Linked DNA regions of Homo sapiens: regions 1 and 3 are each linked to region 2. The links come from fine-mapping of genetic effects on gene expression. A gene starts in region 2. Each other region holds a variant in brackets. All regions are shown on one strand. Distances are from middle to middle.

Region 1 (8,184 bases), 100 kb after region 2:
CGCCTTCTCGCTCCCGCCAGCAGCATAGACTGGACTGGACCAGACAATGTTGTGTTTGGATTTGTAACTGTTTTTTGTTTTTTGTTTGAGTTGGTTGATTGGGGTTTGATTTGCTTTTGAAAAGATTTTTATTTTTAGAGGCAGGGCTGCATTGGGAGCATCCAGAACTGCTACCTTCCTAGATGTTTCCCCAGACCGCTGGCTGAGATTCCCTCACCTGTCGCTTCCTAGAATCCCCTTCTCCAAACGATTAGTCTAAATTTTCAGAGAGAAATAGATAAAACACGCCACAGCCTGGGAAGGAGCGTGCTCTACCCTGTGCTAAGCACGGGGTTCGCGCACCAGGTGTCTTTTTCCAGTCCCCAGAAGCAGAGAGCACAGCCCCTGCTGTGTGGGTCTGCAGGTGAGCAGACAGGACAGGTGTGCCGCCACCCAAGTGCCAAGACACAGCAGGGCCAACAACCTGTGCCCAGGCCAGCTTCGAGCTACATGCATCTAGGGCGGAGAGGCTGCACTTGTGAGAGAAAATACTATTTCAAGTCATATTCTGCGTAGGAAAATGAATTGGTTGGGGAAAGTCGTGTCTGTCAGACTGCCCTGGGTGGAGGGAGACGCCGGGCTAGAGCCTTTGGGATCGTCCTGGATTCACTGGCTTTGCGGAGGCTGCTCAGATGGCCTGAGCCTCCCGAGGCTTGCTGCCCCGTAGGAGGAGACTGTCTTCCCGTGGGCATATCTGGGGAGCCCTGTTCCCCGCTTTTTCACTCCCATACCTTTAATGGCCCCCAAAATCTGTCACTACAATTTAAACACCAGTCCCGAAATTTGGATCTTCTTTCTTTTTGAATCTCTCAAACGGCAACATTCCTCAGAAACCAAAGCTTTATTTCAAATCTCTTCCTTCCCTGGCTGGTTCCATCTAGTACCAGAGGCCTCTTTTCCTGAAGAAATCCAATCCTAGCCCTCATTTTAATTATGTACATCTGTTTGTAGCCACAAGCCTGAATTTCTCAGTGTTGGTAAGTTTCTTTACCTACCCTCACTATATATTATTCTCGTTTTAAAACCCATAAAGGAGTGATTTAGAACAGTCATTAATTTTCAACTCAATGAAATATGTGAAGCCCAGCATCTCTGTTGCTAACACACAGAGCTCACCTGTTTGAAACCAAGCTTTCAAACATGTTGAAGCTCTTTACTGTAAAGGCAAGCCAGCATGTGTGTCCACACATACATAGGATGGCTGGCTCTGCACCTGTAGGATATTGGAATGCACAGGGCAATTGAGGGACTGAGCCAGACCTTCGGAGAGTAATGCCACCAGATCCCCTAGGAAAGAGGAGGCAAATGGCACTGCAGGTGAGAACCCCGCCCATCCGTGCTATGACATGGAGGCACTGAAGCCCGAGGAAGGTGTGTGGAGATTCTAATCCCAACAAGCAAGGGTCTCCTTCAAGATTAATGCTATCAATCATTAAGGTCATTACTCTCAACCACCTAGGCAATGAAGAATATACCATTTCAAATATTTACAGTACTTGTCTTCACCAACACTGTCCCAAGGTGAAATGAAGCAACAGAGAGGAAATTGTACATAAGTACCTCAGCATTTAATCCAAACAGGGGTTCTTAGTCTCAGCACTATGACATTTTGGGCTGACTACTTATTTGTTAGGCGGGAGCTCTCCTGTGCATTGTAGGATAATTAGCAGTATCCCTGGTGGCTACCCAATAGACGCCAGTAGCACCCCGAATTGACAACCCAAACTCTCCAGACATCACCAACTGTCCCCTGCGAGGAGAAATCACTCCTGGGGGAGAACCACTGACCCAAATGAATTCTAAACCAATCAAATGTCTGGGAAGCCCTCCAAGAAAAAAAATAGAAAAGCACTTGAAGAATATTCCCAATATTCCCGGTCAGCAGTATCAAGGCTGACTTGTGTTCATGTGGAGTCATTATAAATTCTATAAATCAATTATTCCCCTTCGGTCTTAAAAATATATTTCCTCATAAACATTTGAGTTTTGTTGAAAAGATGGAGTTTACAAAGATACCATTCTTGAGTCATGGATTTCTCTGCTCACAGAAGGGTGTGGCATTTGGAAACGGGAATAAACAAAATTGCTGCACCAATGCACTGAGTGAAGGAAGAGAGACAGAGGATCAAGGGCTTTAGACAGCACTCCTTCAATATGCAATCACAGAGAAAGATGCGCCTTATCCAAGTTAATATCTCTAAGGTGAGAGCCTTCTTAGAGTCAGTTTGTTGCAAATTTCACCTACTCTGTTCTTTTCCATCCATCCCCCTGAGTCAGTTGGTTGAAGGGAGTTATTTTTTCAAGTGGAATTCAAACAAAGCTCAAACCAGAACTGTAAATAGTGATTGCAGGAATTCTTTTCTAAACTGCTTTGCCCTTTCCTCTCACTGCCTTTTATAGCCAATATAAATGTCTCTTTGCACACCTTTTGTTGTGGTTTTATATTGTAACACCATTTTTCTTTGAAACTATTGTATTTAAAGTAAGGTTTCATATTATGTCAGCAAGTAATTAACTTATGTTTAAAAGGTGGCCATATCATGTACCAAAAGTTGCTGAAGTTTCTCTTCTAGCTGGTAAAGTAGGAGTTTGCATGACTTCACACTTTTTTTGCGTAGTTTCTTCTGTTGTATGATGGCGTGAGTGTGTGTCTTGGGTACCGCTGTGTACTACTGTGTGCCTAGATTCCATGCACTCTCGTTGTGTTTGAAGTAAATATTGGAGACCGGAGGGTAACAGGTTGGCCTGTTGATTACAGCTAGTAATCGCTGTGTCTTGTTCCGCCCCCTCCCTGACACCCCAGCTTCCCAGGATGTGGAAAGCCTGGATCTCAGCTCCTTGCCCCATATCCCTTCTGTAATTTGTACCTAAAGAGTGTGATTATCCTAATTCAAGAGTCACTAAAACTCATCACATTATCATTGCATATCAGCAAAGGGTAAAGTCCTAGCACCAATTGCTTCACATACCAGCATGTTCCATTTCCAATTTAGAATTAGCCACATAATAAAATCTTAGAATCTTCCTTGAGAAAGAGCTGCCTGAGATGTAGTTTTGTTATATGGTTCCCCACCGACCATTTTTGTGCTTTTTTCTTGTTTTGTTTTGTTTTGACTGCACTGTGAGTTTTGTAGTGTCCTCTTCTTGCCAAAACAAACGCGAGATGAACTGGACTTATGTAGACAAATCGTGATGCCAGTGTATCCTTCCTTTCTTCAGTTCCAGCAATAATGAATGGTCAACTTTTTTAAAATCTAGATCTCTCTCATTCATTTCAATGTATTTTTACTTTAAGATGAACCAAAATTATTAGACTTATTTAAGATGTACAGGCATCAGAAAAAAGAAGCACATAATGCTTTTGGTGCGATGGCACTCACTGTGAACATGTGTAACCACATATTAATATGCAATATTGTTTCCAATACTTTCTAATACAGTTTTTTATAATGTTGTGTGTGGTGATTGTTCAGGTCGAATCTGTTGTATCCAGTACAGCTTTAGGTCTTCAGCTGCCCTTCTGGCGAGTACATGCACAGGATTGTAAATGAGAAATGCAGTCATATTTCCAGTCTGCCTCTATGATGATGTTAAATTATTGCTGTTTAGCTGTGAACAAGGGATGTACCACTGGAGGAATAGAGTATCCTTTTGTACACATTTTGAAATGCTTCTTCTGTAGTGATAGAACAAATAAATGCAACGAATACTCTGTCTGCCCTATCCCGTGAAGTCCACACTGGCGTAAGAGAAGGCCCAGCAGAGCAGGAATCTGCCTAGACTTTCTCCCAATGAGATCCCAATATGAGAGGGAGAAGAGATGGGCCTCAGGACAGCTGCAATACCACTTGGGAACACATGTGGTGTCTTGATGTGGCCAGCGCAGCAGTTCAGCACAACGTACCTCCCATCTACAACAGTGCTGGACGTGGGAATTCTAAGTCCCAGTCTTGAGGGTGGGTGGAGATGGAGGGCAACAAGAGATACATTTCCAGTTCTCCACTGCAGCATGCTTCAGTCATTCTGTGAGTGGCCGGGCCCAGGGCCCTCACAATTTCACTACCTTGTCTTTTACATAGTCATAAGAATTATCCTCAACATAGCCTTTTGACGCTGTAAATCTTGAGTATTCATTTACCCTTTTCTGATCTCCTGGAAACAGCTGCCTGCCTGCATTGCACTTCTCTTCCCGAGGAGTGGGGTAAATTTAAAAGTCAAGTTATAGTTTGGATGTTAGTATAGAATTTTGAAATTGGGAATTAAAAATCAGGACTGGGGACTGGGAGACCAAAAATTTCTGATCCCATTTCTGATGGATGTGTCACACCTTTTCTGTCAAAATAAAATGTCTTGGAGGTTATGACTCCTTGGTGAAACCTTCTCACATTCTCATTGGAAGCATATGGGTTCTCAAGGAACGAAATCCCTTTGGCTGTTCCCAAAACTCATGTCTTTTCTTTTATGGCCTTACAACTCCAACACAGGGCTAGGCACAAAAGACACACTCAAGGGATTGAGCAATTGGTAAAAGACCTGGAGGAAGTTTGACAACCAAGACCGAAACTCCACGTTCCTCCAAAGCCCAGGAAATCCTTCTGAAAACTTCTGGCCTTTTCTCTGCACCAGAACCCAGAACGGGCTGGCACAGTGTTGCTGTGCGGAGCTGAAGGCAAAATGTTGCTGTTGCCTGCACAGATCTGTCTTCTCTGCCTTTTTGCAAATCATCCGCCCCTAACTTCCTCTAAGGAGGCAGAAAGGGATTCCCCGTGGCTCTTAGAATAGCAACCCTGCCCTCAGCATCCTAGGCTCCCACTGGCTTCTCCTGCCATTAAACAGGCCTGAGCAAAACCATTCCCTAGTTTTGAG[T/C]TGCCATGAGACTCCCTCACCGACTCCAGCCTTGCCCCGGCTCCAGTGCCTCCAATGATCTCCCAGGACTTTGTTTCCCAAATGCAGCTTGTAATCATCTGAGTGGCTGTTAAAAATGCAGCTTTCAGAAGCCTCCTCCTGAACATTCTGGAGCTGGAGGTCTGGACACAGCCCACCCTCGAGGTGTGGGACCAGCCACCAAGTCGTGCTAAGCAGACTCCCAGTCCATTCCTCCTAGAGACAGTTACAGCCTTGCCTCTCTTCCTGGGCCCAAACCCATTTTTGGAAGGGAGGGGAGGAACCAATAATAGTCTCTTTTTTTTCCCCCTGAGTTTGAAACAACCCAGATATTATAGATAAAAGAATCAACAAGTGGGAAACCAAAAAACTAGCTTTCTTACTCATAAAACCGAGATGAGAGGACACAGCTTCACGGTGTGACCCCAGCGGGCATTACACTCGTTCTGCATTAGACAGACTTGCCCACCTGGCCACAGGTAGCAATTAAACTTAGGAGGCCCCAGCAAAGGCTGAGCCCCTGCCCTGCAGGACAGGGAGAGGGGACCAGAACCTACACCCTATAGGCAGCAGACCCCCGTGCAGCAATAGGAAGCGCACTCGGTTCCTACGTCCAGACTCAAGTCCAGGCCACTCCTTTCCTCCTGGGGTCCAGCAAGGGGTTTTACCAAAGTCCATCCACATGGAGACAGGAGTGAGAAAATAGAGTCCACAGCCATCCCTGCATCACCCCTGGATCTCAGCCTGTTTACCTTAATGGAGAAGCCAAGCCTGTTCACCTGGCCCTCCATGGTCCACTAAGATGGAAGGCCATGCCCCAGCTGCCACTGGTCTCCACAGTGACCCTCAGTGTCACACAGTCTCTCTCCCTGGCCCTCCTTCAATGGGAGCCTCCTAAAGGCCTCCTTACCTCCCAAGTCTCCTTAATCCTACCTAGACTTTTGACTTCTCAATAGTGATTGTGTTAAACCAGGAACCTGATCAATCACTGACACTGCCCTGCACACAGATCTCCCCTGGTTTCCTGCTACTCCAAAGCCAAGTGCCATTTCCTCAGCCAGGAGCACAAGGTGGCCCTGCCTTAGAGGTGTCCCTCTGGGCATGTTAAGATGTGCATAAGGCATGGTGATTAGGAATGGGACTCTGGAGCTGCGAAGCCTGGGTGTGAATATCTGCTCTGTACATTAACGCTGTGTGACATGGGACACATGGTCTAACCTCTTTGAGCCCCAGTTTTCTCCTCACTGAAAGCCTGGAGGGTTACAGGAAGGATTAAATCCTCAGTGTCTGTGGACCACTGGACTCAGTGCTGTGGGAGTGGCTGCTCAGCCTTTCCTGCCTCACCTGGCGTTTGTATAGCTCCTTCTAGCCCCCTTATCTCATTCCAGCTGCATGACAGCCAAGTGAGACAGGGACCCATCCACATCCCCCTTAGAGATCAAACAATTGTGTCTGCGAAGCAGCAAACCTCCTTCTCAGCCATCACCATGCTGGGCATGTTCTGGGTGAGCCTGGGGAAGATGATATGTGCCCCATCGTAAAGTGAAAGAACTGCATCTCAGGGCTCCACAGAGCACCCAGAGTCCAGTGCTGCAGAGGCAGGATGGGCCCAGGCCCCTCAAGCCCATTCTTCTCTTGGCTCCTGTTCCATCTCGGCAGTGCTTCCTCCAGGGAGGATGTGGGATTTGATACGTGGGAATGACAGGGTTTGGCAATCCCATAGCTTCTGAATTCCAGGGAGGGGAGGAGAAAGATGCGGGTGAAAACCTGCTTTCAGAGGGTTTTCCCTTGGCTGCCTCCTCAACCAAACTCACCCACAAATTGCATGTCAAGTTTCCCAACCTCCACCTAGGGGAGCAGGCTCTTTCACTTCAGAGAATTCAGAGGCATCTCGAGGGCATATGCCAGGGCAGGCACAGAGTGAGGAGGTGGGGTTGGGGGTTTTTGGACAGCTCTGGTCCCCTCCAGCCCCACAGAGCATGCAATGTGGCTGATGCTGCTGGAGAGCTGGTCTCTGAAAGGAGAATGCATGAATCTGAACTAGAAACAGAAGGGCAGAAGGACCAGGAAAAGAAATGAGAGCCAAACAGAGTCTGAGCAATGAAAGGATGTTTCAGAGAGCTGAAAACACAAGCTAAGCTAAGCATCAGTGGACTGGGAGAGCTCTGAAAAATATCAGGGAGCCTAGAGGTATCTAGTCAAAGATGAGTACAATTACAACCAATAAACTCAAGACCAAGGACAAGAGCAGGGACATTTCCCCCAATTAGACAGTGCCCCCTCTGTGTCCCTGCCCCCAACACACATTGACACATTTGACTTTTGACTCCATTCTGTTCTCTCTGCACTGCATCTTGTCTCTGGCTCTTCTTAATCTTAAGATCCTTCATTGGTTTGTTGAATAACTTGAGCTGCAAAGCAGAGACTGGGAAGTTGGAAATAAAGTAAATCAATATCTTCTTGATAAAAGAGACACTCCTGACATCACATAATGACTTGACCCACTCACATCACATCGCTCCTCAGCCTTCAGTGCCTGGCTATGTGCTGGGATCAAGGCTCACAGCATCACAGGGGTTGGGCGCTGTAACCACCTGCTTGTGCCATGTGTACTCCCTGTCTGTCTCTACAAGTACCATTGTCACCTCCAGTTCTGCAGATGAGGACTTCGAAGCTTGGAAAAGCTGAGTAACCTGCCTGGGGTCACACAGCTGGAAATACTAGGACCAGCACTTGTCCCTGAGCACCTGACTCCTGTGCCTGCACTCTAGAAAGCACAGGGAGAAATGACCCAGCACAAAGGTGATTACAAAACAAGGTGCAATGAAAAGCGCTCTAAAGTGCTGTAAAAGCCCAGTGGAAGGAAACATCACTTCTCACTTGAGGATTACAGAAGGCTTCCTGGAAGAGATCTTGTCTGATCCCAGCTTTTCGGAATGATTGGGATTTTGATGTTGGAAGCAGAGGATTGGGGGTGTAAGAAGGGCATTCAAGACAGAACAAATGTGAATGAAATCTGTTGTATGTCAGAACCAGAAGTCCAACAGCAATAGCCCTGTTTGTCTGGGAAAGAGTACTCAAGGGGAAAAAAATAGGAGATAAATTCAGAAATGTAGACTGAGGATAGGAGGAGTTTGAACAGGTGGATAGGGAGGCATCCAGGAGTCTTAGGAGGTGAGGGGGAGGGGGTGATGCAATGAGAACTCTGGAGACAGTGAAGGGGGCCATGCCATCCAGGCAGAAGAGAGGCTTTACCCACAG
Region 2 (8,153 bases):
AGCAAAAAAAACCTTTTGCTGTTATTTAAAAATATTCTTGCTGTTTTCCAACCATCAGAGGAGACATGCACTTTTCATTGCTGTTAACAGATCTTTTTTTATTGAAGAAAAATACAATTATGATAACTTCCATAGATTATTTCATTGAATTTCACGTAATTCTATCAAGACCATTGTGAAGTAGATGTGCTCTGCGGATGAGAAACTGAAGCTCAGGCTTTAAACAACTTGCCAAACACAGTTACTAAGAAACAAAACTATTAACCATATCGTATCACCTCAATCATCCTTTTACTTTCCTTTGAAAGTAAAAAACTCACTCTCTTTTGAAAATCCCATCCAGGCTCTACCTGGACAAAAGTGCCTAGCTGCCTCTCTTTCCATAGTGAGCTCTGAATAAGTAGCCTTTGATTAATCCTATAGGTGGTCTCTATTCTTTCGATAATACAGCCTCATAAGAAGAAAAATTGGTGATTTAGCAATTATTGCCTGAATAAATTAAAGTGTTTTATTTAATACTTTAACATTATGAAGAGGGCAATATATGAATTAATATGTAAATAAAATAAAATGACTTTAGACATAATATGAAAAAAAACAGTTTTACATGTTCCAATTTCTCCCTATATGTTTTCCCATCCATTGTGCATTTTACTGTTGTCCCTAAGGGTTTGAACATTTGATTTATATCACCTCTCTGGTCCCTCTGAGTCTATCCACAGACCCCAGGTTATAATAATATAAGCTTGACTTCCTTCAACTCCACCCGGTTGGGGGCAAGGGTAAGGCATGGTACCTGCAGCCTGACTGCTGTTTTGTTTTGTTTTGTGACAGGGTCTTGCTGTGTCGCCCAAGCTGGAGTGCAGTGGTGTCAATCATGGCTCACTGCAGCCTCAAACTTCTGGGCTCAAGGGATCCTCCTGCCTCAGCCTCCTAAGTAGGTTGTTGGGACTGCAGGTGCATACCATAACACCTAATTTTTAAATTTTTAATACAAATGGGGTTTGATTTTTAAAGTTTAAAATTTTTTTGTACAAACAGGGTCTTGCTTTGTTGCCCAGGCTGGTCTGGAACTCTTGGCTTGAAGTGATCTTCCCACCTTGGGCTCCAAACTCAGGTGTGAGTCACTGCACCCAGCCAAGGAGCCTGACTCTTCACAGTGCACTCCTCATCTCATTGGGACATTGGTTGGGCTAGCAGGGAATAACTGTTCTTACTTGGAAAGTACTCCTCTCTGTCAGGCATGTGGCAAGGTCTTCCATATGTGATCTCCTTAACCCACAAACAACCCCACCAGGAGGGTTATATTATCACCACCAATTTACAGATGGGGAAATTCAGGCTTTGAGAGATTAAGGACCTCAGTCAGATTCATAAGCCCAAACTATCTGGGCTCTTAGCCCCACATGCTCCTGCCTCAGTGGGCTACACCTTGGTGAGATGCCTATGTTTCGGTCCACTGGTCCACTCCTGAAGACCAAGGCACAGGTTTAGAGAGACGTACCAGCGGCTAAAGGTACTTCTGCATCCAAGAACTAGAGGTGTCCCGTGTCCCCTTTACAACATTGTTGGCCTCCCTCTGGGCCTTGTACCTTATGTTTATTGCCTCATTTAATCCAGGTAAGGAGTCTTTAGGATTGGTGGCATGTATTCTTTTTATAGACAAGGAAGATGATGCTCAGGAGTTTGGATAACCTGCCCAAGGTCACGCAGTGGAGGAGAGGACTAGAAGGTAAATCAATGGACCTTTCACTACCTTCCCCTTCTCTGGGCTGTAGCAGTGAGTTAACTGGCTCAGACTTGCCCAGCGGAATGCCCTTCAGGACACACTGAGTACTGTAGTAAGAGCTGCATATGCGCTCAGGGAGAATGTGGATAGACGCTGTTTGTGATTCACGGGTAAAGGGCCTTCTCCCAGAGGCAGCAGAGGCAGATCCTGTCTCTGGTGTGCCCTGGCCCCCGACTTGGAGGCCTCCTGGGCCAGGCCAAGACCTTCCCCGGCAGCGATGGTCTCCAGCCACACTCAACTGCCCTGAAGGGACATTTCCTGCTTATTCCCTTGCCCGGCTGTGTCCTCCACCCGGAAGGCCTGTGCCTTCTTCGCCTGCATGTCCTACCCTGAGGAGGCTCCCTTGGTCTTTCATCGCTCTCCCTATGGGTCTTCACGCCTTCCCGAACCACCGCGCCCAAGCAGGAGCACGTTCTCGGCCCTCTTCACAGGGCGCTCCTCCTCACAGGGGTGCCCGGGATTTTTATTCTGTGCCTTCCTGGTGGCTCCTACAAGTCTGGAAGGGCAGGAGGCGCATCTCACTCCTCTGGGTCCCCTCCCCTAGCGCCTGGCGGGAGCCCAGGCTGCATTTGTGGAATTCATGACTTTTTCTCTCCTGCTCAAGCTGAACACATTGCTGGCTCCTGCTCGGGTGGAGCCCGGCTAATTAGAGTGAGGGGCTCCCCGTAGGGCGAAGGGGTGCGCTGTCAGATGTGGCATTCCCGTTTTACGGAGACACACGGTGTCTTACACGCCAGGGAGAGGTCTGAGACGCAAAGAGCCGTCGAGCGGGCTGCGGGATTGCTTCGCTGTCACCTCCGCCTGCAGCCACCCTTCCGCACGCACTTGTGTGTGCACCCAGGCCAACATGGAAGGCGCCATCCTAACTTCTGCCGTGAGCAGGTGGGAGGGAAGAGAGACGAGAGGTATTCCATTGGTTGTCTGGGAAAATGAATTGCACCTTCCCCTCCCTTGCGGAGGATCAACTTTTCCCACCCCCTCGGGTGGGCACTCGCATCCTGGGGCCGGAGCCTGAACCCGGGAGCCAAGGGGCCCCAGTTCCAGGGACGTGAAGCTGAGCGTACAGCGGGCGCTCCCAGACACTGGGGAAAGTGCTTTACGATGTCCCGAGTCCCTCCAGTCTCGCCAGCGGGGCGAGCGTGAGGGTGCCCCGACCGACCAGCGGCCCCGGGTGCAGGGTGGCGGGCCCGGCGGCGCGCGTCCCCCTCCCCCTCCTGGCGGCCCGCACGTGTCGCCCGCGCCGCGCCCCCACGGGTTACGCGCGGGTCCCGCAGCGCCGCGGCCGAGCCGGGCTGCCCGGCCCGCGGACACAGCGCCGGCCGCCGCATCCCGTGCGGGGCCGCGGCGCGATGCTGCGCTGGAATGAGGAAGCGCGGCGGCGAGGGGAGGGCCCGGGCGCGGTGCGCGCGGGGGTGGCGGCGGCGCGCCGAGCGGGCCCGGCGCGGGCGAGCGGGCTGCAGCCGGCGGCGGCGCCAGCAGGTACGGCCCGCACCCGCCGCCGCCCCGGCGGCCTTTGGGGGCTGAGCCGGAGCCCGGCGCGATTGCAAAGTTTTCGTGCGCGGCCCCTCTGGCCCGGAGTTGCGGCTGAGACGCGCGCCGCGCGAGCCGGGGGACTCGGCGACGGGGCGGGGACGGGACGACGCACCCTCTCCGTGTCCCGCTCTGCGCCCTTCTGCGCGCCCCGCTCCCTGTACCGGAGCAGCGATCCGGGAGGCGGCCGAGAGGTGCGCGCGGGGCCGAGCCGGCTGCGGGGCAGGTCGAGCAGGGACCGCCAGCGTGCGTCACCCCAAAGTTTGCGGGGTGGCAGGGCGCGCGCTCTGGCCACCCGCCGCTCTGGGCGGCAGCTGGTGGCAACGCAAGGGCGCGGCGGGGGCGGCCGGCGCGGAGGGGGCCAGGTACGGGGCCCGCGGGCGGCGCTGTGCGCGCGGGGCAGCCGGTCGGCCGGGAGCGCGAAAGCCTGGTCTGAGCCGGCTGGGGGCGGGGAGTGTGGCGGAGAAATGGGGAACAATGCGAGTGAGCAACTTCAGGAAGTCATTGTGAAAGAAAGCTGGGAAGAGCTCCGCGGCCAAGTTAGCAGGACACTCTAACAAGTGACTGCGCGGCCCGCGCCCGGGGCGGTGACTGCGGCAAGCCCCCTGGGTCCCCGCGCGGCGCATCCCAGCCTGGGCGGGACGCTCGGCCGCGGCGAGGCGGGCAAGCCTGGCAGGGCAGAGGGAGCCCCGGCTCCGAGGTTGCTCTTCGCACCCGAGGATCAGTCTTGGCCCCAAAGCGCGACGCACAAATCCACGTGAGTGTTTTCAAATTGAATTTCAATAGGAAAACTTGGGGTAACTGGTGAATTTAAAAAAAAAAAAACACAGTAAAGAAAAGCGGTAAGGTTGGTAGACCCTGGTGTCGCTCAGGTCCGCCTCTCTTTTCTGAGGACAGTGAGAGAGTTCACTTCTGTCAAGCGTCTGTTGCTCTGCACTGTGCCAGCAGGTGCAGGACCAGGCCGACATGGGACACTTCTGAGCAGCCCCGCTGTCACCAGGAGAGGAGTTCTAGCTCCCAACCATATTTAAATTTATGTAGACCTACATATACCCACGGAAGTCAGCCTTTATAAAGTCGTGTGTAAAGAGTTTTCCTTATATTTGAGCCGGGAGCTTTCTTTTTATACTATAAATATGATGAGATCGAGTCTGAACTTAATTTCTGCAAGAGAGGAATTATCCCGGCTTTGAAAAGTTAGTCCTTTTGCTGACCGCAGGTTTGACGCTCAAGTCACCAAACCTTCTCAGGAAAACCCTTAGTAATATTAAGGCATCAGGTTACTTGCGGTTATATTTGAAATGTATTTTAAATATTTGTCAAGCATCGCTGCTGATGCCTAAGGAACCTCGTGAGGGCTTGTTTTTCCTTCTAATTTGGAGGCATCTAATGACCGAAAACCGTAGCGATTCCATAGGGTCTGACCAGGCACAGCTTTCAAATGCAGCTTCCCTCTCTCTAGGGACTGCAGCCCACCCAGACTGAATTTCAATGCGGTGCGCTTTGCTTAGGTTACCCACTCACAATTTCCCACTGCGCCGCAGGCAGTATATTTCAGCTTTGAGATACCTTGTTTTAAAATTCCAGACAAAATGGTGTTGAGGAAATGTCTCCTTACTAGTCCCATCAACTTCTGTTAAAAGAGGAAAATTTATGGAATTTGAAAATACTGCGTATGATATTTAAACTTTCATAGACATTCAAATGCTTTTAAGGCCAGGTTCAATTTGGTTATGAGTCGAGGGGTGGGGGGGACCCACATAGAAATGTCCTGGGTCCTCTTGAGTTTATTTCTTTGTTTGAAGATGTTTGTTCAATGAGTTTTATTGTACTCATCTTTTATATGGAATTTTAAAAAGTAACAATTTCAGTATTATTTATATTAGAATGTGTCAGAATTATTTCCGTGACAAATCAGATCATTTGGGCTATGGCTTAAAATGTACACGAGGCAAATATTCATGACAAGAAGATTCACCTTCTTACGCTGGCATCTTGTAAAATGCAGAACAAGTTAAAGAAATAATGTGTACACATACAAATAATGATGTCACATTAAAAATACTACACTATTCTTGCTTGATGGAATGTATCTGATTTCCAATTTCACCATGAACATATTTCATACATTTTTTACATGAAAAAAAACGTGACTCTTAAGTCTCACAGTCAATCAGAGCTGGTGACCAGAACATTTTATTGAACTAAATGGTCATGTTTTCTTCCCCTTTTGTTTCACGGTGAGAGTTGAAGGAAGGAGTTTAGAAACTCTCCAGTACTTGTTTAATTCATCAGTGTTCTAATTAGAGTGGTACCTCTTGGAAAACTACACACCCCCCTAATGCAGAAACATCATAGCAATAATCACCCACCCTCAGGGTCTCCAGGAGACCACAAGGGCTGCAGATAAAAGTCTGGATGTGTTAGGTTTGACCCTTTCGAAGAGTTTTACACAGGCTCCTAAAGAGAAGATCAGCTGTGGCCGTTTGTAGCCATTTCCTTTGTCGAAAAACTAAGATCGCAGTGAATGTATTAGCCAAGAGGTCTAAAGCCCTGTTGTACTGCAGGCCACTGTCTTCCTTGTTTGACTAGAGACTTGGAGTTTGAGAACAGTGGTTCTTTGGTTTGGATACATTTTTTGTTCTTGATTTGGATGTGTGTGTTTCATGCGTGGTTAATATAGCATATTTTCAATATAAATGTCAAAAATTTTGAAATAGGAAAGAACTCTCTATATATTAATGTACTTATACACACACTTCAAGATTATGCATTTATTAACAGATACATGAAATAAATTCCATGTGCATATGCACATATGCACACAGAGCGTGCACACACACAGCATGCACACAGCGTGGAGTGAGAGGCATGGGGCAGTGTGGAAGAGTTTTAACATCAAACAGACCTGAAATGAGTATTAAAGGCCCCCTTTATTTTTAAACTTTTACTAAAACAAGATGGATTTCCCTATGTTATATAATGGTGAATTTTAGGCATAAATAACGTTTTTTGAGTGTTGCATAATTGTACGTATTAATGTAATGTAACTGTGGTTAACGAAGAATTCATCAAGGATATCACTGTTTTGTGGCATTTTTTTTTTCCTCCTCTAATCTTTGGACTTGTGAAATAATTTCACTATGAAATAAATGTTGGTTCTTGTCATATTCTAAGGGAGATTGATGTAAGTGGCTCCACTCCAGCTTACAGAAGGTAAACCACGACCTTTTTGCGTTCTCTGAAAACGCTTGTCTTCCGATGCCTCTGTTTCTAAGACTGACAAGCACTCTGGGGGCACTGTGACGCCTGCTTCTAGCGGCAGAGTTGCTGCAGCTCCTGTCCTGGCTGTGAACATTGTTCTCTCTCTGGTGTCTCTATGTTCATAACTACAGAGACTTCAGCTCTATTCCATTTCATATTTGTGCTGAATAATCATTCCATTTTATGGGAGAAAACACAAGATGTAAAAGCAACAAGTGACCCATCCTTTGAAGCTTACAAGAAGAGAAACATTAATCTATTTCACGTCTTGAAAACAGATCAGTTTTATTTTGCTCAAAAAGGGCACATGTACATTTTTGATCTAGGTCTTAGAAACGTAGAGTTTCAGAGGATCAGCATTATACACACTGTCACACACACACACACTTAAAATTCAGATGAGGAACAAGATAGGAATGAGGTTTTGTTAGGGACGCAGAGCACCTAAAACCAAAGGATATCGACAGTAACAAAGCTGTTTTTACTGTAGTGCTGACTGAACACTCATGCTGGTGTCTTCATGTGGACCATGGCTTTCTTGTATTTCTTTGCAGTTTAATAAATGACTTCATATCTCAGGTTACCTTTCCACATCTCCTGGAATATATGTTTATGTCCTTAAAGTTTCAGTGTCGTCACTTTAGTAGCTTTAGTTTGAGTTTTTAAATGTTTGGTAATATTCCAACAAATATTTTTTAAGACATTATGAAACCTTATGAAGTGCCATATATTACAAGTGAGATAAAACAGCAAGCAAAAGAAGGTTTGCAGAAGGTTTTTAAGTGGCGAAGTGCGGGCCTGCCCATTTTGGTGTCTCCTTGGTGGTTACTCCTGAGAAGGGCCTGGAGGAAGAGCAACTGAGGCCTAATCTACAGGCAACTGCCAAATTGTTTCAGTTGACGTTTTTCCCTCTCATGTTTGACTATAATAAATAGGTAGTTGCCAGTGGAGCCTTCAGCCAACCACCTGGTAATAAACTGTTAAAAATGGTGCAAACCCTAGGTCACAGGTGTGGGGGCCATTTGTCTTGCCTGTTAACAGGCCTGGCCTTAATTCTTTTCTCCCATGGCCATTTCTGCCTTTGGGGAACTCACAATTCCTGTTGACTAAAAGAGCACCCTTTTCCACCACAAGCCTGACAAATCAGACGTCCACATAATTTCTGAACTCGTTTTGGTTAGGACAGGAAGCACAGGCTCCCTTCCTGTCTGTGTTTTCCTAAGAGAAAACGGTCTTCCCTCCTTTTTTGCATATTTGGCAAGTGGTTCCACCTTTCTCTGCACCCTGGTGGAGTGTGAAGGCAGCAGAGGAACCTTTTGGAGGAGGAAGAGGACACAGAGGCCCTGTAGCCAGGCACCAAGATCCCTCCCAGGTGGCTGGGTCTGAGGGGAACTCCGAGCAGCCCTAGGTCCTCAAAGTCTGGATTTGTGTGGAAAAGGCAGCTCTCACTTGGCCTTGGCGAGGCCTCGGTTGGTTGGTGAGTGCCACACGGTTTCTTTGTGTGCTTGCATGGATTGGAATAGCCATTGTGTTCTTCCGTCTTCCCTGCTGGTGTTTCCACAGTGGGTGG
Region 3 (8,184 bases), 53 kb before region 2:
ATAGCACTTAATAGAAAATGTATAGAAGTAAAACCAAGAAAGAAAAGAAAGAGGAGAGAAAGAAAGAAAGAAAGAGAGAGAGAGAAAGAAAGAAGGAAAAAAGAAAGAAAGAAAGAAAGAAAGAAAGAAAGAAAGAAAGAAAGAAAGAAAGAAAAAAAGAAAGAAAGAGAGAGAGAGAAGGAAGGAAGGGAGGAAGGAAAGAAAAGAAGAAAGAAAGGAGGGAGGGAGGCAGGAAGGGAAGGGAAGGAAGGCAAGGGAAGGCAAGGGAAGGGAAGAGAAGGGAAGGGAAGGAGAAGAGGAAGAGGAAGGAGAAGGAAAGAAAGAAAGAAAAAAAGAAAGAGAAAGAAAGAAAGAAGAAAGAAAGGAAAGAAAAAAAGAAAGCGAGAAAGAGAAAGAGAGAGGGAGAGAGAAAGGGAATCACCCTATTTTAATTGCAGAGAATAAACCCAAAGACAGTACACAGGGCAAAATGGTAAAGATAAAAACAGAAGTTAATAAAATACAGAACTAAAATATGACAGATTAGAAAAACAAAACAACAGGTTTATTTTAAATCTCATGAAATTAAGAAATCTCTAATGAAAATTTTCACGTTATGAAGAGAATGCACAGAAGCAACTTCTGAAAAGGAAAATAAATTCAAACTATAGATGCTTCAAGAAATAAAAAGATGAGTATACTGAGTACAACCTGATGGCAATTTAATATGTAAACCAAACTAGAATTAACAAATTTCTAGAAAAAAAATAACTTAACGAATAACTCAAGGAGAGTTAAAAAAAAATCAAACAGTCCAACATCCCTTAAATCTGTTGAATCAGTAGCATAAAATCTTTTGAGAAAAGAAAATATCATGCCTGATAATTGTACAAGTAAATTCCTGCACAATTTATTCAAAAAATTCTAACCTTATACAAACTTTTTTAGAGTACAGAGGAAAAGAATACTATTTAGTTGAGTTTATGAAGTTAATTTGCTCCAAATACTAAAACCAGATAAGAATAAACAGGTGAAAAAAAAAAAAGCATAGGCCAATCTCATTCATCTGCAAAGAACAAGAGAAAGAACATCAGCATGAAATCTAACATGTATAGAATGTTATGGCTATGTAGGGTTTCATCTTATAACTACATGGTTTAGCATCAGAAAACTCATTGATAGATAAAAATATTTATACATAAATGGGGAAAATGAGAAAAAGCGACTTAATAGCATTCATTATTCATGAAAGTATTGCTCAGAATAGTAGGAAATTAAGAAAACTTACTTAAACTGATAGAAGGAGGCTACTAAAATCCTAGGAAAAACATCGTATAAAATCCTAGGAAAAACATCGTATTTAATGGTGGGCTGTTAAAAGCCTCCCGTTTAAAATGAGTTGCATGATGACGATTCCTAATATCACACTTTCCTTCAACATTATATCTGAGACTGTAGCCAGTAATCAAATACAAGAAGAGGATACAAAATAAGAGAATGGCTCGTAAATGACTAGAACATCTAAATGACATGTAAGATGTCAAAATAAGAGAATGACATCTTAAATGAATAGAACAAAGCCATAATTATTTGCAGATAATATGATGTTCTGTAGAAAATCCAAATGAATCTGCTGATGAATTATTAGAATTAAATAATGGAATTTTAAAAGAATGTGTGATACAAAATAAATAGAGAAAAGTTAATTGCATTTGTATACCTCAGCCAAAAGTATTTACAGTGTGGAAATTTAATATTAAGTAATATGAAATTTACAATAGAAACCAAAATTGTAATTACCTAGGAATAAACATAATATTAATAGATGTACAAATTTAGAAGACCTAAACAAAAAAATTAGATATCTGTATAGGAAGACTTAATATATTAAGATGTTAATTATCTTCAAATTCATCCTTCTATTCAAGAAAAATCCAAATTTCCAGCAGGTAATTGGTTACATCAAGCTAGCTCTAAAATTTATATGTAAGAGCCAACAGTCAAAAATGAGCATTGCTGAAGGGAAGAATACATTGGAAGGATGGACATTATCACATATCAAGACATACTATAAAAATATGATCATTGAGATATGTTTTATTTGTATAGAGATAAACAAATATACTTACAGAATAGAGTACCCAGAAACAGACTTAACAAAAAAATAGAAACCCAGTTATGACAGCTAGCATTGAAGAACATGGGAAAATGGACAGCAACAATTACTTTTACATAGGGAAGAAAATGAACTAGGATTCCTATCTCACATAATACACTAAAATCGTTTCAAGGTAAATTTATGACATAAATGTTAAAAGCAAAACTATAAAAGTTTTGAAAGGCAATGTAGTAGACTATTACCATGTATAGGGAAAACTTTCTTAAAGAGTCGAAAAACACATTCGCAGAAATGATTAACCAATTGGTCTGAAAATTGAGGTACAATGAAGACGTGAAAAGATGATACACATCGGAATAAAATATTTACAACACAGATCACTGAGCAAGTATTTTTTAAAACATATAAAAGAGTCCCAATATATAGATACAAAAAAGACAATTCGATGGAGAAGTGAACAAATTACTTCAATGGGTACTTCATGCAAGAGAAAAATAAAATATGAAAAAGATGCTCAATCTCATTAGTAAGCAGGGGAATTCCAATCAAAGCCACAATTATATTACAGTGGCAAGAAGCTTAAAGATTGACAATATCAAGTGCCTAGGACATTGTGGGACAGAGGAGTAGTGAGTACTTTCTGTGCCTAACACACAGGAGGGCGGTTGTGTAACCAGTGTTACAAAGGGTGTTCCTTGACCATGAAAAGCAAGTCCAACAAAAGAGTGAAGAAGCCAAGTGGTTTTAAGTGCAAATCAAAGTCCCTCAAGTTAAAGCAAAACCAGTCACACTGACTATATTTTCAATGTATTCATTTAGTGCACCTAAAATCCATTCAGTGTCCAAAACTCTGATGATCAAATTAATTCAAATAACAATATCACAAAATCATAGTAATGTGCAAACCAGCTGCCATCTATTTTTGTAGCCATAGTGAGAGATTATATTTTAGATGATGATAAAATAGTCACTAAAATGATTTTTAAATTGTTAAACTATTACAAGCATAGTCAGTACTTATTATGCTTTATTATGATCTGAAAGTCACACAAGTTTGTAAACTATCATTATTATAAGAACTGTTTTAAAACAGATGACAGGGGTTGTGTTTTTTCGTTATTGTTGTTTTGTTTTCTGTCTTTTAAGACATTTTCTGTGAAGCAATAGATTCATGAAGGAGAGAGAACAGCATTGATAGGAAGTAACTAAAACTTCATTTCATTCAGCTTGTGCACATGTACCCTAAAACTTAAAGTATAATAAAAAAAAGTTAATAGATCCTCCATGAGCTTTAATATCCAATGTCCTCATTGTGAAGTTGCCTCAATTACGTGTGCTACAATTTGCAAACCAGTTAAAAATAAAAATGATAAATTGGCAACTAAGTTCAGCCAGTCCTGGAATTCTAAAATTCTAGGATACACCATTGATTACTGGTAAAAATACGAAGATTCTCCATCATCTTGAATTTTATAATTCTGACAGCTTTATGGAAGGAACATATTCTGCCATTGTCCTGGGCATCACTCTACAAGCTTTCTTGCTTGTAAGTAGATCTGAGCCAAGTGCCAGGGCTGCAGAAGCAAGTTCTAGGGCTTTGGAGTCAGACAGCATTGGATTCCCACTGAATTAAGTACTGTGCTTCTGCGCCTAGCCTCAGGTTTACTATGTATAAATGAAGTCTAAATAACCACCTGGTGGGCTAGTGCAAGTATTAAGCACAATAATGCCTCTGAAAGGCCCAGGACATTCTTGGAACAGAGAAGCTCTGTTTCTGCTCAGCCTGTCTCCATTCCTGCCTGATTAGCTCAGGACGCCACAGAGAGCAGGAGGGGCAGCCACATAACAGGTTGGGGGGTGTGTCCATTGGACCAGCTTGCATATCATCTCACCTCTGACTGCACTGTCACTGGCCCTCATGTGCTCTCCCTTCTTTGTCTGCTAAGACCCTCCCAATGGTTTGCTGTTGACATCCAACCTCAGCTCTGTTCCCTAGACTCCGATGCACATCTCTCCTCTCCAGAACCTGCCTCTATGGAGTGGCATTAAACATCTGCCATCCTGAGCCCTCGCTGGTATGGTCCCAAGACCTCCCACAAATGTCACAAGTACCACCAGATACCTGAAACATTCTTTCCCCAACTCTTGTCAGAATGTCCCAACCATAGGCTCTCAGCTTCAGTTCTGCCTGCCTGGTGACATGCCGGCCTGAGGCAGTAGGACAGCCTTGCATGTTTGGCAATAGAGCTGTGCTTCTCTGAATGATTTAGGAATGATCTGGGTATATTAAAAAACTAAAAATCCAAGGTGTCTATTATGATACATGATTGCCAAATCTGCCACTCTTTATCTCCCAGTTGTTCCTTGTCCCATTACAATTTGGTTTAGAATTAACCCATTCCCTCCAACCGTTCTTGCTGGCTTGTAATTGTAATATGTATGCAATGGACACAAAATCTGAAGCATCTCTTCCTGAGTCCCGGTCTGCCTCTAACTTGCTTTGTAAATAGTCACTCTGTCTGTTTAAAGTGTCTCCACCCTCTTCCTTCTATCTTCTGTTAAGCTACAGGAATGCTGTTTTCTAAAATGCCATCCTTTATGGAAAGATCATGACATTCCTTTCCATAAAATCCTAAAATGTCAAACATAAGAATCATTTGGTTCTTTGTAATACAGCTCTAGCTTTACCTCC[C/T]ACTATTTTTTCAAAACCTAATATGTACCTTATATTTATTTCTTCATGTATCTTACATTACAAACATATAGACCCATGTGCACTTTTCCAAATTGATCATATTCTTTCTTTTTACAGTAATGTTTTCTGGAAACAATCTCAAATTTAGAGATAAGTTTCAAGAACACTACTAAAAAGTTTGTACCTTCAAATCATTGATGGCAGGTTGTGGACATAATGCTCAATCTATCCCAAACTAGAGTACATTTTCTAAAAACAAATAAATTACCCAAAAACATATTCCATAAGTCTATCAAAATACAAAACTAAAATTGTTATATGACTGCCATTCAATCCACAAACCCAATTCAAGTATCGTCATTTGGTCCAAAATATCCTTTATAGCAAAGGGATCAAGTTTAGAAACATGCATTGCTTTTAGTTATAATTTCTCTTTAGTCTTCTTCAACCTGAAAAAGTTACTCAGTATCTCCTTGACTTTCATGTTCTTGACAGGTTTGAAGAATACAGGCCAGGTGTTTTAGGAATTTCTCCCAATTTGGATTTGCCTGGTGTCTCCTCATGATTTGCTGTGCTGTGATTTGTCTTGCTGTGTCCTATCAAGTGAAACACAGTTTCGATTTGTTTCATTACTAGTGATGTTGACTTTGATTGCTTAAAGTGGTAAGTGTCATGTTTCTTCACTGTAAAATTGTTTTTTTCCTTTTTAATTGAGGGTTTTATGGGTAGCTGCTTTGAGAGACTATGCAAATATCCCATGCCTCATTAAAGTTATAATTTGTTCACTTATTTATTGTCTATATCACTATGAACTATTGGTTCCCTATTAAATTCAGTGGATTACAATCCATTACTATACTGATGTATTTTAATGTTTAAATTCTTCTAGATTTGAACAGTGGGACCCTCTTCAAGTTTTCTTCTGTGTCCTTTTAATGTGTTCCTTTTCAAACCTTAACAACTTTCTTACTTTATCACAGCAAACTATTCCAAGCTCATGTCATATTTTCTCTGTTCTAGCTTTGAAATCAACCATTATTCCAAAGATCCATGGTTCCCATTTGGTGGAAATGGTATTGCAAAACCAAGAGCTGGATCTAGGTGTACTCATTGCTATTGAATGTTGCTGTTTCTACTATTTCTTGGAGACAGAGCTAGGGCATATCATTGTATAAATACCTACACATAGGTGATAATATGGACAAATCTACAGATAGCTTCGATTTCAATTCAGAACCATAGTTTTAGTTTGGTTCCTTTATATTTCTAACATCCTTCTCCAACAATAAGAAACTAGCTCTCATTATTCTTAATATTTATTTGATTAATCTCCTTGGCCATAACCAATCTCCCTCTCCTGCACTGATGCCTCTTTAATCCCAGTTGGCCCAGACACCTCACATCAGGCTGCATGGCACACATCCAGGTCTTGTTGCAAGCTAAAAGCCTACCAAGAAAAAGGACAACACTTACCCTATATTGTGTCTTCTTCCGAGTATCAACTCCACTGTGGCATCTGCCTATGTTCATTCACCCCGGTGCCTTCAGGTTATATTTTTGTGTTTTGTCCAGGGTTTTTAGCTGGTCTCTGGGAGGTTTGGTCCAGCAGGAGCTAACACAGCCATAGCGGAAGCTGCCATAGGATTTTGTTTATTTTCTTTTCCTTCTGTTTTGTATTTGTGAATTTTCTTTATAAGATCAAGAAAGGATTCCTGGCCGGGCGCGGTGGCTCACGCCTGTAATCCCAGCACTTTCGGAGGCCAAGACGGGCAGATCACGAGGTCAGGAGATCGAGACCATCCTGGCTAACACGGTGAAACCCCATCTCTACTAAAAATACAAAAAATTAGCCAGGCGTGGTGGCGGGCACCTGTAGTCCCATCTACTAGGGAGGCTGAGGCAAGAGAATGGCCTGAACCTGGGAGGCGGAGCTTGCAGTGAGCCGAGATAGTGCCACTGCACTCCGGCCTGGGCGAGAGCGAGACTCCATCTCAAAAAAAAAAAAAAAAAAAGATTCCTAGTTTCCTAAGAATTTTTATCATGAATCGGTATTCAATTGTATCTCATGCTTTTTCTTCATTTATGGAGATAATCATAAGATGTTTCTCCTTAATCTGTAAATGTGGAAAATTACATTGGTTAATGTTCCAATATTAAGCAAAATTTGACTTTTTGGAGTAATCCCATTTTAGTTGTCTGTATTGCTGTTTATTATATTACTGGATTTTGTTAATATTTTGATTAGGGGTTTTGTATCTGTGTTCATGAAAATAATTTGGCTTCTAATTTTCCTTTATTGTGATGTTCTTTGAAGGTTTTATATCCAGGGTATGCTAGCATTATAAAAATAAATTGAAAGGTTCTTATTTTTCTATTGTTTGGAAGTGTTTGGAAAAAGTCACCAATAAGGCCAATTAGAAAGGAGTTCTCTTTAGCGGAAGAATTTCATGACAGATTCAATATCTTCATTAGATAGAGGATTATTCAAATATTCAATTTCTTATTGTGTCAATTTTAGAAAGTTGTATTTTCCAGGGATTTTGACATTTTATCTGAATTGTCAAATTTATTGACATAAAGCTTTTAATAATATCCTAATATTAGCTTTTTAATGTCCATAGCTTCTTTATAAATGTCCCCTTTTTATCCCTAATGTTGATAATGTATGTGTTTCTCATTATTCTTTTATCTGTCTGGCCAGAGATTTACCAATCTGATTGGCTTTTTCAAAGAAATAACTTCCAAGCTCTCTGTGTCCTTATACCTAAGGTATAAATCTTATTTTTTTAAACTTTAAATTCAGACTGACAATCATAGTCCTTTTATTTGAAATATTATCAATTTTCATTATCACTACTTTTATATTTAGATTTAAATCTACTATCTTGCAATTCATTTTCTATTTGTTGCACTTGTTCTGAGCTTCATTTTTTCCTTCCTTTTTTTTTATTCTGTCCTAATTAAACTTTAAAAAAATTCCTTCCATTTTTCCCTCCATTTACTTAATGGTTAAACTTTTAAACTTTTGAGATAATTGTACATTCACATGCAGTTGCAAGAAATAATGGACCCTGTCTCCTTATGCTAACATCTTGCAAAACTACAGAACAATATCACAACCATTGACATTGACATTGACACAATCCACTGATCTTATTCAGATTTCCTCCATTTCACTCATACTTGAGGGTGTGCTTGTGTATCTAGTTGTATCAATTTTATTCCATGTGTAGGTCCATGTATCCACCATAGCAGTCAAGGTAAAGAGGCATTCCATCACCACGAGGATCCCTCAGGCTGTGCTTTCATAGCACCTTCCACCTTGTCCTTCTGCCCACCCCATTCCACTCCTAACCCCTGGAAACGTAGATCTAGCCTCTACTTCTAAATTTTG

Alleles and levels. Positions count from the first base shown, and alleles are read on the strand shown. Sizes are in standard deviations (SD) of each study's normalised expression. Not every link is listed here.
As copies of C replace T in region 1, the expression in B cells of the gene that starts at base 3,870 in region 2 goes down (large effect, 1.2 SD a copy in Fairfax 2012).

Evidence for each region.
Region 1: its variant is fine-mapped to the expression of IKZF1 in B cells (Fairfax 2012, PIP 0.95).
Region 3: its variant is fine-mapped to the expression of IKZF1 in whole blood (TOPMed, PIP above 0.99).

The regions. Positions count from the first base shown.
Region 1 is chr7:50,400,687-50,408,870 of GRCh38, forward strand. It overlaps IKZF1 (IKAROS family zinc finger 1), which reads left to right. Exons shown (of 8, transcript NM_006060.6): 8 at 1-4,415. Among named protein-coding and RNA genes, the nearest start is that of FIGNL1, 46 kb to the right of the region's middle. The variant T/C (reference allele first, on the strand shown) is at 4,906.
Region 2 is chr7:50,300,847-50,308,999 of GRCh38, forward strand. It overlaps IKZF1 (IKAROS family zinc finger 1), which reads left to right and starts at 3,870. Exons shown (of 8, transcript NM_006060.6): 1 at 3,870-4,076. RefSeq lists an enhancer at 1,827-2,328 and a silencer at 3,183-3,982.
Region 3 is chr7:50,248,035-50,256,218 of GRCh38, forward strand. No RefSeq gene overlaps it. Among named protein-coding and RNA genes, the nearest start is that of IKZF1, 53 kb to the right of the region's middle. The variant C/T (reference allele first, on the strand shown) is at 4,791.